3 separate regions of the Homo sapiens genome follow, and regions 1 and 2 are each linked to region 3. The links come from fine-mapping of genetic effects on plasma protein levels. Region 3 holds a variant in brackets. A gene starts in each other region. All regions are shown on their reverse strands.

Region 1 (4,238 bases), not on the chromosome of region 3:
GCAGGCCTGGGTGGTGGGGCCTCCCCGGGGCCCCTCTGTGTGGCCCTCTGGCTGTCTTCTCCTCTTGTGGTATTTCTGGCTCGTCTCCACTGACCATCCCCCCACCCCTTTCTTTCTCAATACTGTTGCCAAACATTTGGAAGAAAAGTGAAAAACTTGCCCCCCCGCCAGTCCCGGATGTTGTCAGATTTCCAGATGTGGGTGTTCTGCCCTCCAGATGAGAGGCAGAACGTGTTCCAGTCAGGAGCGGGCTGGCCCCAGCCCTGGACTGCTGTCCCTCCCTGTGAGGCGGAGTGACAGGATGAGAGGGACTGGGCCCAGTAGGAAGACAGCAGGGCGTGCCAGGTAGAGGCCCTGGGCCCCACAGCACCTCTCAGCCTCAGGCTTAGCCCCTTGCCACACCAGGGAAATCCCTGGCTTTGAAGTTTCTATCAAAGGCTCCAGGCACTTAAAAGTAACCAGGAGCACCTCCTTCCCACCCCCCAGGCACAGATGCTGGGCAAGGAACAGAGCCCAATGTGTTTACAAGATGTCCCCACTGTTGGCGTCCCCATGCGGGAAGAGCCTTGTGCCACCTCAGCCCTCCCACCTCCCCAAGTGGCAGTCCCGTCAGGCTGTACTCTGTCACTGTCATCTGCTGAAGGCTGGGCTTGGGATGGACCCTGGGGGCCGGGCACTGCAGGATGGGCACTGGGGGTGGGCACTGAGTGGTAGGAACAGGGAATGAGCATCACTGCACTGGGGCAGACCCTGCTTGGCAGCTTGGGGTTCCTCAGAGAGGCAGACCCTCTCAGAGCCCCTGCCAAAAGGGTCGGCAGAGGGCAACATGTGGCAGTGGAATAGCATTGGAGAGAGCTTTCTGGAAGAGGGCCAGTAGAGCCAAGCCTTGAATATGTCAGGCAGAGGGGGCGAGGGCACTCTGGGCAGAGGGTGCAGTGGGGAGCCAGGCCTGGGGTGTGTAGGGAAATGTGCATCCCTGGGGCCTGTAGAGAGGGGAAGTAGGAATCTAGGGGTGAAAGCTGAGAAACTGGTCCCTGGGCCAGCAGGGGCTGAAGAGGGAGGCTGCTGAACTGGCCTGGGGCGACTGCCCTAGAGGGAGCAGCATCCTTTCTCTTGCCCTTTGTGGGGGTTCCTGGAGACCCTTGGACCCATAGCCAGGGCTACAGCTGCCTGCCATGACCAGACACTCACATACAGACACATGTAAACACCCAGACATAAACACACAGAAGCAACACCCGCAGACACACTCACATAGACACATAGACACACCACGCACACATAAAGACCCAGACCCACAGAGACAAATGCAGACACCCGGGCCATCCCTTACATAGACACAGATACGGAGCACACATAGGCACGCACAGAGCCCCCCACCACGGAGGCACCCAGACAATACACACAGGTGTACACAGACCCCCCTCCACACAAACACAGACACAGAGAGACCCACAGACACATAGACACCCCGACACAGACACAGACAACACACACAGACACATGCTGACTTCCGCCTTCCCCCACATGGACACGGTCATAGACACAGACACAGACACAGGGGACTTTGGAGAGCTTAAGTTCAGAGGTGCCCTTAGATCATCCCAGTCCTTCTGGCCCCAACACAACACGTAGCATGTACTTGGTCCACCCTTCTTCACCTCTTCAACTTACGGACCTGCAGAGAGGCAGCAGGGCCCTGTGTGGGTATGTGCGGGTGTGCAGATGAGTGTGTGTGTATGTGTGTATGTGTGTGTTAAGCAGTGGCCTTTGTCCCCCTCTCTCCCTCCCCCTTCCCAACAGGTGATTGGGAGGAATGGAGATCCCTCCTCCACTACCCATTCCTGAGCCTGAACAATGCCCTCCCCAGGCCCCAAAATAGCCCCTAAGCCTAGCCATATCCTTTTATGGCCCTGTCCCTATTGTGCACTGCAGGGGTGGGGCTGGGGTCATGAGGTATCCGGGCAGGATAAAGGCCTGGGTGAGGCGGCTCACCTACCCTGCTTTCTGCATTCTTCTCTCCACATCCCTCTCTGTACTTACAGCCCCCAATGGCCCCCAAAAAGCCAGAGCCCAAGAAGGATGATGCCAAGGCAGCCCCCAAGGCAGCTCCAGCTCCCGCACCTCCCCCTGAGCCTGAGCGCCCTAAGGAGGTCGAGTTTGATGCTTCCAAGATCAAGGTGGGTATGGAAGCTGGGTGGTGGCAATAGGAGCAGGGCAAGTGAGTGGATCCCAGAGTGGACCTAGCAAGAGGCAGGTCAGGCTCTGGAGGTGAGCACTGAGCTGACGCTGGAAGCTTCTGTGCAGAGGTCAGACAAGCCCTGACTGCTTCAGGCATCAGAAGGGCTGCAGCAGGAGGGATGGTGGTCAGACGTTCTGCAGGACTCCTCTGGTGCTGCTGAGAACTAAGGTGGAGTCTAGACTGGGGTTTGAGTCTGGACTGTCTTTTTAGTGGTTTTGGAAATGGACTCTCCCTTGCCCTTCTTCCTGGACTTCTCATCCTTGGGGAATCCTGGAGTCAGCTGGAGCCAGGCAGGGATTTTCCTTGTTCAGCTGAGGGGTCCCAAGTCCATACACGCTCCCAGCGTGGATGAGATAGGGAGTAAGAAGAAGCAGGGCCCCTGTCCAGGCTGGGTCTCGTTCAAATCACCGAGCCCAGAGCTGGTAGAGCACTTCCAGGCCTCAGCTTTTAGGTAGGGAACTTGAAGCATCAGCTGGCTGGGGACATTCTGAAAGCTGTGCAGGAAGCTGGTCATGGAGCTATGACCAGTGGCCCCAGGAGCCCTTCCCCAACTGCAAAGTCTTTCTCAGAGTCTAAACTTGGAGGGAGCCATGACTCCCACCTGTGGTATCTGCATAGCAGCACGTACCCTGTGTCCTGCCTGCTCCCTGTTCTTGGCTGGGACCACTGCTGCCCTGGCTGCCTCCTCAGGAGCCCTGTGGAACCCTCGCCATCCCTGCATGCCCAGCAGGACCTACATTCCATCGGTGAAGTCTTGCCTCCTGTTCATGAGCCCTTCCCAGAGACACCTACCATGTCCTTTGAGGCAAGGGTTCAAATCCCAACTCTGCTCCATTTTAGTTGCCAAGTTCTTCGCTGCTCTGAGGCGTGGTTTCCTCAGCTGTGAAACAGAACAGCAAGTCCCCTCTTGCAGGGCTGCTGGGAACCATTCAGAGTATATGCACCTGGAGTTGGCCACCCAGGTCCCAGGCTTGCATTCTGCAGGCCTCATGGTGAGGCTGTGACCACAGCCACGGCCCATAGTGGCATTGTCCTTTCTCGCCAGGCCTTAGGTTGGCACAGACTTCCTTCTGAGAGGTGGGGACAATGAGACCCCTCATGCGCCCTCTTCCCCCATCCCCAGGTTGCAGGTAAAGGGCAGGGAGCCTTTGCCAGGAGCCCAGAGACCCTAATCTCAGTAGGCTTCCTGGTGGAGAGAGCTCTCAGGGAGCCAGGAATGACAACCTGTTCTTCCCAACACTGGGTCAAGCCAGAAGCCAGGAGGGACAGTCATGGTAGGGTGGCCCTGAACAGGGTGTCCCTCTGTGCCGGCATGCACTGTGGAGATTGGTGGGGCTCCGTGGCAGCAGCCATGAGAGAGACGCCAGTCATGCCCCTCCCCCAACCTCCTTTCCCTTGTGTGACCTTGACCTTGGGGCGAGTGACTGCAGTGATAAAAATAGACCTGGTATCCGGTGAGGAGGGGGACACTGGATCCCGGGAGGCCTCTTGATTGACGTCAATCAAGGTGGCCCCAATGTGACTTCAGCAAACACTCAGCAGCACTGCCCTGGCCCTGTGCTGTCCTGGGGTGTGGGAGCTTCCCAGGGACCTACGGACAGGGTGTGTGAGAAATAGGTATAGTGGGGCTGGTGAGTGACTGCCTGGTCTTTAGGGCTTAGGGGGCTCTGTGAGGGCAGACGTATGTAGACACATGCTCACACACAAACATGCACACTTGTGCTCACCCTCGATGCTTCCAGCCACCAGCCCTCGGCCTGTACCATTGCCCTTACTCCTTCTACCACCCTGGGCCCTCCCATCTCACTTTTGCTGACAGTCCTGCCCACCAGGCCCCAAGCAAAGCCAGCCTGACTGGGGCTTGTGGCTTAAGGTACATCTGTCCAGAACCGGGAGCATCAGGTAAGGCCCACGCTGGCCTGAGGCCTTGGGCATGTGGCCTCCCTCCTCACTGCTACCCCTGCCAGGGTCCACCGAGCATCAGGGCCTCGGTGCA
Region 2 (4,238 bases), not on the chromosome of region 3:
CAAATGTATGAAGATGAGTCTTGGAAAGCCCTTGTTCGATTGGGTCAATAGAAGATGGGAGAGAAATGTTCTCTCCCAAAAGATGCTGTAAGAGAGAGCCACAGAAGAGCTTAGAAAGGGGTTTTCAAATAGGGCAGGGGATTCAGATTTTGCCTGCAAAGTTCACTTGTGCTCTCTCTCTCCTTCTCTCGAGTGAGGAGTCCCTGAGGCACCAGCAAGAGTGACAGGTGTAGTGTGGGTGGCCACCTGAGGTCGCAGGAAGGGGTGAGGGAGGGAAGCTGTGCTCTCTGGCTAGGGGCCGGTACAGCCTTCCCCTCACCGGCTCATCCTCTGAGACTCGACCCAGGTGCACCTTCCTGATCACCTCCTGTCGTAAGTGCCTGACTTCCCCTGTAGGTTAGGGTCTGGCATAGGGTAGGTGCCAATGAATGTGAGGGGGAAAGAATTGAGACTGAGGGAATGGCAGGAGAGGGCAAAGGGTGGGAAGAGGTGTGGTGCCGAACACCTATTAACCTCAGTAGGGAAGGCACCAGGTTTGAGAGGCCAAAGAAAAGATCCATAGCCAGCAAACGGAACATGGGGGTTTCAGGAGGCGGAGGTTGCAGTGAGCTGAGATCATGCCACTGCACTCCAGCCTGGACAACAAAGTGAGACTCTGACTCAAGAAGGAAAGAAAGAAGGAAAGAAGGAAAGAAAGAAAGAAAGAAAGAGAGAGAGAAGGAAGGAAGGAAGGAAGGAGGGGGGGAGGGAAAGAAGGAAAGAAGGAAGGAAGGAAGGAAAGAGAAAGAAGAAAGAAAGAAAGAAAGAAAGAAAGAAAGAAAGAAAGAAAGAAAGAAAGAAAGAAAGAAAGAAAGAAAGAAAGAAAAAGAAAGGGAGAGAAGGAAGGGAAGGAAGGAAAGGAAGGAACGTGGGGGTTTGTTAGGGGCTTGCCTACAGGAGAGAGAGTCCACTGGTGATGAACTGGACAGGAGAACCGCCTTACATACAGAAATGGTCCAGGGGCGGCGGGCTGGACAACATACCAGTGGCGGCCGACTGGGCAGGAAAACCTCAGCCCCTTGCAAACAGCATGCAGTTTATAGAGCATTTTCACTTTACACCATCCCCTAATGACCTCCACCTGGCAATCTTCATTTAACCCAAAACTCAGGGCCTCAATCCCCTGTATGGCCAGCGTTCCACCAGAAGGGACGGGACGGGGGCTCAGATATTCATCGTAGGTAAGAAACGGGTTGGCTACTCCCCAGATTCCTTAGCTCGGAACACATATTCAGGTCTTCCACACAGGGTCATTCTTGGAGCGTGCTTCAGTTATCCCTGTCAGGTGCGTTTACCCTATAAGAAGGCCCTTCAGGGGACACTCTGGCAGCCTGAGCAGTTTGCACAGTGAAGCAGTAGGTGGCTCCCCAGCTCCTCCTGCCTGCACCACACCACACACACATGACTGTGGTCAGGGCGGGGGCCGTGTAGTAACTACCGGAGTGGTGGAGGGACCAGGAGCCACACATTGCTGTTTTAGCCAGTGACAACTTCTGAGCACGAAACACTCACTTTTAGGTCATATTCCTTCCACCGTCTTCATGAAGTCCAGGTGCCCAGTCTCACTGTCTCCGTTTTTCAGAAGGCAGTCAGTTCAGGGAAGCTGAGCGCCTTCCCCAGGGCACCCAGTCAGCCGGGGCAGAATTCAGATCAGAACTCCCGACAGCTGAGAACGCCGCACGGGATCTGCCCTCCATACGACCATGCCTGAGCCGTTCCCTCCTTTCCATTTTAACAGGGGCTTGGGTTGGGCAGAAAGGACCCAGCTGAGAGGAGGAGCAGTGTGGGGGGACGCGGCGGACAGCTCCACCTGTCGCTGCTGCCCAGCAGGCTGGAGACACGGAATGGCCCCTCCCCTTGGCCCCCTGTCCCCGATGCCATAGTTCTCATCCATTGTCATTGTACTGTCTCAGTGCTGCTATATTTAAGACGGTGCAGTCTCCGGGATCGCATTCTTCTCCCGGTGCCCGCTGAGCCGAGGGCAAGAAGAGAACAAGGACCCTCTCGGCCTCAGGAATCTTCTCCCCAGAGACTCCTAAGTGGGCACACTGCTTCTGTGAGTCACCCCCAGAAATCAGGGTGGGGGAGGGATGCCTCCTAAGAGTCAGCCACTGGGGAGTGATATCTGTGGGTGCATGTGTGTGTGTGTGTGCACGTGTGTGTGTTTGTGTGTATGTGTGTTGTGTGTTGTGAAAGGAGCCTGGGAAATTTGTGCTGAGGCAGCACCCAAGTGAAAATGGGAGGGGATTCCAGAAACCCCTGCCCCATCCCACTGTTCTGTGTGGCCCTGGGTCTTCTGAGAGCTGAGCTGTCTGTGATGTGAAAGTTGCAAAAAAAAAAAAAAGAGTGGGGGCTGCCCTGGGAACTGGAGTCTTTCCTGTGATGGAGCAGCGATAAGCGGGAGCCAGGCTAAGCTGGCAAGTTCCACGAACTTAGAGCGGAGCTGGCTGAGCCCGGCTTGGCCAACCCCACAGGCAGGGAAAGAGAGCGAGCCCTCGGATCCCAAATCTTAGAGCTGGAAGGGATTTCATCCAGTGCCTGACAGGAAACCGAGGCCCAGACGGGAAAGGAGTTGCCTCAGCTCATGACTGGCAAGGGCAGGATTCGGCCTCGCGGAAGCTGGTGGAGCCACTGGCTAAGAACACGTCCCAGCCTGTGCCACCCGCCGCCCGCAGGATGTGTCTCTGCTCCCAGCCACCATCCGCCCCCATCGCAGCTCCTGGAGGGGTCTTGGCTCAACTGCTGTGCATTCCTCTTTCCCTCCTGAAGAAGGGGAGAGGCCTCCTCGGCAGATGGAGGCTTGGGAGGAAAGCAGAGGGGAATAGGGAAGGCCACGCAGTGGGACCTCTGGCCCAGATTTTTGCACCCCAAGAGAGGGAAGCGGGGGCAGTTTCCCCTCCACGCAGGCACACACAGTGTTCCGGGAAGAGGCACCCTGGTCCTTTGGGAAAGGGCAGTGAGGCCGCAAACTTGTCCCTGCTTAATACCACGCATCAGTCAGTGCTTTAAAAAGAATTGGTAGCTCATCCGCTAAAGCCAGGGGTCTGGTTGCTGGAGGCCCCGAGGTCAGGGACGAGCGCCAGGCCCCTGCCTGCTGTGCTAATCGGGAACAGAGCATCCAGGGGAAGGGAGCCAGTGGCTGGTGCCAGGGAATGTTAACTCTCAGCCACTGGAGCCAGGGCCATCGTGTCCCAGGAAAGCTGGGGCAGAGTGGGGGGTCCTTGCTCCACCTAGGGTGGTACCCAGCAGCTCTCCTCCTGGGCCATGAGGAAGAAAGAGCAGAATGAGCAGGGCTAGCCACTTCTTTGGGTGCAAAGAGAACTTCTTCCATCGGGAGGGAGTGATACGAAGCCAAAGAGGGTGACTGTCCCATTATGTCATTTGAGATGATTAGCAGGAGCCCAGGGAGCTTTAGGGGGCAGCCCTTGGTCCCAGCTAACCCTGCAGCCATCCATTCTCTTTTTCCTGATGCCCACAACTGCAGACACCCAAAAGGAGCAAACTTCTAGGAAGTAGAAGGGGTAAAAGCCCACTAAGACTGACCCTCCACAGCCCGAGCCCCAGACACCTCCACCACATGCCCCTTCCAGGCCAACGGCTCTCCAATAAAGCCAGTGGGCTCACCTTCCATGCCATGGACTTAGAGAAATGGTCACCTAGGTGCTGTGTTCACATCCAGGCAGAAGACAGCCTACACATGCACGCACACACACACATACACACACATGCACGCCCACACACACACACGCTGCCACCTCCAGCAGGACCCTCTAGAGAGGCAGGGGCCAGACAGAGCTGACCCCACAGAAGCTGACAGGAGCAGGCCAAGGCAGGCGGTCATCCCTCTTCTGTTTCCATCCCCACGCCTGGGCAGGAACCCTCCCATGCCAGAAGCCTGCAGACCAGGATTCCCACCTGGAGGAGGTGTGAAAGCCATTCCAGGGATTTTAGCTTTAGCATCAGGGGGGCCCTCAGAGACCCAGCAGTGACTGAAGCCCGGATATGAGAAAACTCAGTGCAAAAACCCACAGCCAGCGGGCACACGGGCCTCCCACACCCCTCGTTTGCCTCTCCATATCCATGGATCCGCTTCCTGAGCCTCCCCTGGGTCAATCTGATCCGGCCCCACTGGGCGCCATCACGGGCCTAGACTTGAGCCTTGGGAATGCAAAGGAGATGTGTACATTGCAATCCCCTTA
Region 3 (4,223 bases):
TTCTCACATATAACAGAAGGGGCAATCAAGCAGCAATTTCTATAGTGGGTCAAGTCATGCTTTGAGGAGTAGAGTTTTCAGAGCCCAGCTTTAAAAACAGATTTTCCATAAAGCACCAGGTGAGAGGCAACTGTTATGTTTGAGTAGTTTTTGGAAAATATCGATTATCTGCTGCTATAAGGAAACATTCTGAAGGAAATGCCAGGGAAATAATAACAACAACTTCATTTGGCACAAGATAAAGATGTTTTCTCTATCTGGGCAACTCAGGTGCACTTACCTGCTTGTGTTATGTTCCATTGATAATAAGCCATAAATAAAACAAGC[T/A]AAGCCAACTACAGCTGCAAAGAATAGCATTTCTGTGTAAAATCCAAGAAAGACAAAATAGATACCAATTTTTTCTCCATAATAATTCCTGTGAAAAAGAGTAAAAACAGAATCAGAATATGGAAGAATGTTATAGTCTGGAGCCTTGATTTTGTATTCAGACAGGCATATATTCTAATTTTGGCTCCACTGCTTTCTAGACATGTAATTTTGGTGAAGTTACTCAACTCTCTAAACTTCAGTTTCCATATCATTATCATGTTTTAACACAAGATGGTGCTTATGCCATACTGCAAGGACTGATACAAGGATTAAAAGGGATAACAGATATAAGTAGAAAGCCAATTAAACGGAATTTAACTTTAAAATTTAAATAAGATAATTTGGAAAGCCTCTGTATTATAAAGAGAATTTAAATGGTTTTTAAATAAACTACAGAATATTCTACAATGTAATTTCTAGGAATGAACTTAACAAATCAAAACCATATCCAAAATCTGCATGGACTTTTGCTTTATCTCTCTAAAACTGAAAACATTTCTCTGACCGCATTGTAGATATACATTTCCATCTTTCTCCAAGTTTGAATCTTGGATGTTTACAGGATTGTGACATATGCAGCAGGCCAAGGAATTAAACATGACTACTTTAGCAAAAATTCTATGAAATATGCAGCCTAGCTCTTGGTTTTCAAAGAATTGAAAAGTGACAGCGTTTATCGGCACAACATTTTAATTCTCACAACCAAGTGTTTTGTTTTTAACTTAGTACCCATTTAGGAATGAGAGAAAGTAGTTTTCTCCTCCTCAGAAAGTCAGGTTTTCTTGTTGTTGTTGTTTAACCTGATTAATCTTCCTCCTTATTCATATAGATCCCAGCTCACCAAATCTGTGAGTCTTTCCACAGTTTCCTAGGCAGAAAGATGTGATACCTTTTGTGTTCTAGTAGCATGCCATATGATTCTGTGAAAGTACTTAATATTAAATTGTAATTTCTATATATGCTTAACAAGAACACATATCTGAACATAAAGGTTATAAACATTTTTTCTCAATGAGATTTTAAAATGTATTTATCATATTCAATATTAACTTTATTGAACATCCCATTCTTCATATTTCAACACTCTTAATATTAATAGGCATCTTTCTGTTTATCCTGTCTTTTTTCATTCTTTTCAGTGATGATGAACATTGTTGCATTGTTAATTTCCCTAATTTGGTTTTCCAGATCACTATAAACTTGAAATTAAATTATAATGCCATCATATTCCCTTGCTAATCTGCCATTCACAACTTCCTTAGCTTACTCAGAGTGAATGAACTTTTTCTCCCAGTTTTTTTCTGAAAAATGTAGAAATTATTGTAATAGTACATGACATCAAAATCAGAAAAAGTACAAAAATATATTTTATGAAATTTACTGTTTACCATGTCTATTTTTAATGTTTTAAAAATGGCAGAATCAATGTTATTAGAAATATAATATCAACATTATTGCTATAGACTTAACTTAAAAATTCTTTAAGTATTCATAAGGAAACTGGATATTTCAACAATCTTAGTTTTAAAGTACTACTTTTTTCTCCTTTTCAATTGTCACAAGTCTTATTCCTTGAGCATAAAAAACAAAATCCCTCAAGAACTCTAAACCTGTCAAAAAAAGAAATTGCTGAGAATTTACTAAATGAAATCAGGTAAGTATTTATTACATGTGGAAATATACAAATTATCTTACTAAACTTTGGACTTGGGTATCTAACAGTAACAGATTAACAACGAAATAATCTTTCAGGATCTCAGAAAGCAGGAGATATTTCTTAGATTTGCAATATGGTAAAAATGCATACATTATTGAAATCACATTTAATATTTAATTTAAACTATCTTGTTAGTCATAACTAAGAAAATAAGAGAAATCTAATAACATGAGACACTCTACAAAAGCTCAAATATAGGGAGAGCCTTCTTTTGAGTATTATTTTTTAGAAAAATATGCCATATATTTAAATCTATGATCTTTTTTAACCTGTCCATTTTAATTATTAGACTTTCAACTGATCTGTGGCACTGCACCATTTAACACAGCATCTGATAGGTAGATGTGTGTTAGATACTGTGTGAGGGGACTGCTCTCATTTTGTATTTCCAAGATGTAATATTTAGTTGAAGACATAGTAAATAATCAAAAGAATGATGATAGAATTAAATTGAATACAATCTTGATAAATCAATCAATGCAAACATTTTTTTCTAAAATGACTTATTTTTACAATGAATCCATAAACATCTGAGAAACTTAGCTTCAGTATTATCCTCACATTGTAATAACATTATCTGTACCACACATATATTTAGTCTATGCTATTTAGTATGTAGCAGTATTTCAATTTTGTTTCTAAGCATTAACATACAACATATGGATATCAAAAACAAATTACCTGAAGTGTAAGCTGGAAGGAAAAAAAAATGAGCTGATAGAGCTGATGTGCCAGTGATCAGTCTTCAACTTTATATGCTCCATCAGCCCATTTTTCTCAATCTTAGCATTGCCATTTTCCCCAAAAATATTATCTAATGTGACAAAACTATCTGTGCTCAAAAGGCAGAAAAACCACTTCCAGATATCTGGACATTAAAGTGATGTTTGGTATAGAGGTAACATGAAATATGTGAAATCTAGGAACTCAGATTCCTATAAACTGTATCTCTTTCTAGACACCCTATCATTCTGTCTTCCTTATTTTTGTCCTCCATATCCAATAATCCATTAGGGCCAATGAATTCTGTCATAAAAATATTTTTTCTAATTCATAGTCTCCTCTCCTTCCTGTTGTCAATGCCTTGAAAAGACCTCCAAAATTTATTGCTGGACAATTTTAACAGCCTTTACTTCCCTGAGTTCAATCTTATATCCATCTAAATTATCTTTTGTTTCCAATAAAATGATGTTTCTAAAGAAAAATTGAGCAATATCCTTTTCTTCCTTCAAAGCTTCATCTTTTTACTTCAGCATTGTTCTTCAGGATTTTGTTCCTGGTGAACATTCAAATCTTCTTTGCCAACACTCCTACTTGAAGAACTAAACAAACACACAATGCTCTTGTGTGTTCTCTTTGCCTGAGATATTCTTACCTAACTTCTTTCCCTACTATACTGCTACTTATCTTTCAAGACATAGTTCAAAAGCACTGTGAAGCTTTCCTAGAGGTTGTCATGAAGATAGGTGCTTTTCCCTCTGTATTTTGTTTGGAGTATTACTGTGCTGTAACTAATACGCATTTGTGTGTGTTCCTGCAAACAAATTCATGTTAGGAAACCACCATCTGATTATCTTTGTAGGCACAGTACCTTGCTTGATATGTAGTGATGCTTAATAAAGTCTCATTAAAAGAAATGTGTCAATTGTAATTATGCATATATGAATAAATTCTTTTCTTTTTTGCTTTTTTTTTTTTTTTTTTTTTTTGAAACAGGGTCTCACTCTGTTGTGCTAGGTTGTAGGGTAGTGGTGCGATCTCGGCTCATCGCAACCTCTGTTTCCCAGGTTCAAGCAATTCTCCTGCCTCAGCCTCCAAAGTAGCTGAGATTACAGTTGTGTGCGCCACCACGCTGGGGTAATTTTTGTAGTAGTAGTATTATTATTTTTTAGGTAGAAACGGGGTTTCACCATGTTGACCAGAATCGTCTCAAACTCCTGACCTAAAGTGATCTGCCTGCCTTGGCCTTCCAAAGTGCTGAGATTACAGGCAAATTCTTTCTATTTTAAGAATATTTTAACTTTTATCAAGTCTACCCACAAAACCTTTACTAAAACCCATGAAATCAACAAGGAGAGGAAAAACACCCAAACCCAATACAGGCCTTCAGTATCATGACAGAGAAAGTCATGATCCT

Direction of the effects. Positions count from the first base shown, and alleles are read on the strand shown. Strength reflects both the effect of a copy and how common the allele is.
As copies of A replace T in region 3, the plasma level of the protein whose gene starts at base 1,998 in region 1 goes up (moderate association).
In carriers of allele T in region 3, the plasma level of the protein whose gene starts at base 1,991 in region 2 tends to be lower than with A alone (moderate association).

The links. PIP is the posterior inclusion probability: the model's chance that the variant is causal. The UK Biobank Pharma Proteomics Project read protein levels with antibody pairs (Olink). The fine-mapping took linkage between variants from a reference panel, not from the people measured, so its PIPs are less certain.
Region 1: it holds the start of MYL3, and the variant in region 3 is fine-mapped to the plasma level of the MYL3 protein (UK Biobank, PIP 0.98).
Region 2: MYOM3 starts here. The variant in region 3 is fine-mapped to the plasma level of the MYOM3 protein (UK Biobank, PIP above 0.99).

What each region holds. Positions count from the first base shown.
Region 1 is chr3:46,861,204-46,865,441 of GRCh38, reverse strand. MYL3 (myosin light chain 3) reads left to right here and starts at 1,998. Exons shown (of 7, transcript NM_000258.3): 1 at 1,998-2,180. The coding sequence starts at 2,052.
Region 2 is chr1:24,109,888-24,114,125 of GRCh38, reverse strand. MYOM3 (myomesin 3) reads left to right here and starts at 1,991. Exons shown (of 37, transcript NM_152372.4): 1 at 1,991-2,095. RefSeq lists an enhancer at 1,281-1,789.
Region 3 is chr11:22,246,429-22,250,651 of GRCh38, reverse strand. ANO5 (anoctamin 5) reads right to left here. Exons shown (of 22, transcript NM_213599.3): 10 at 281-415. Among named protein-coding and RNA genes, the nearest start is that of ANO5, 55 kb to the right of the region's middle. The variant T/A (reference allele first, on the strand shown) is at 328.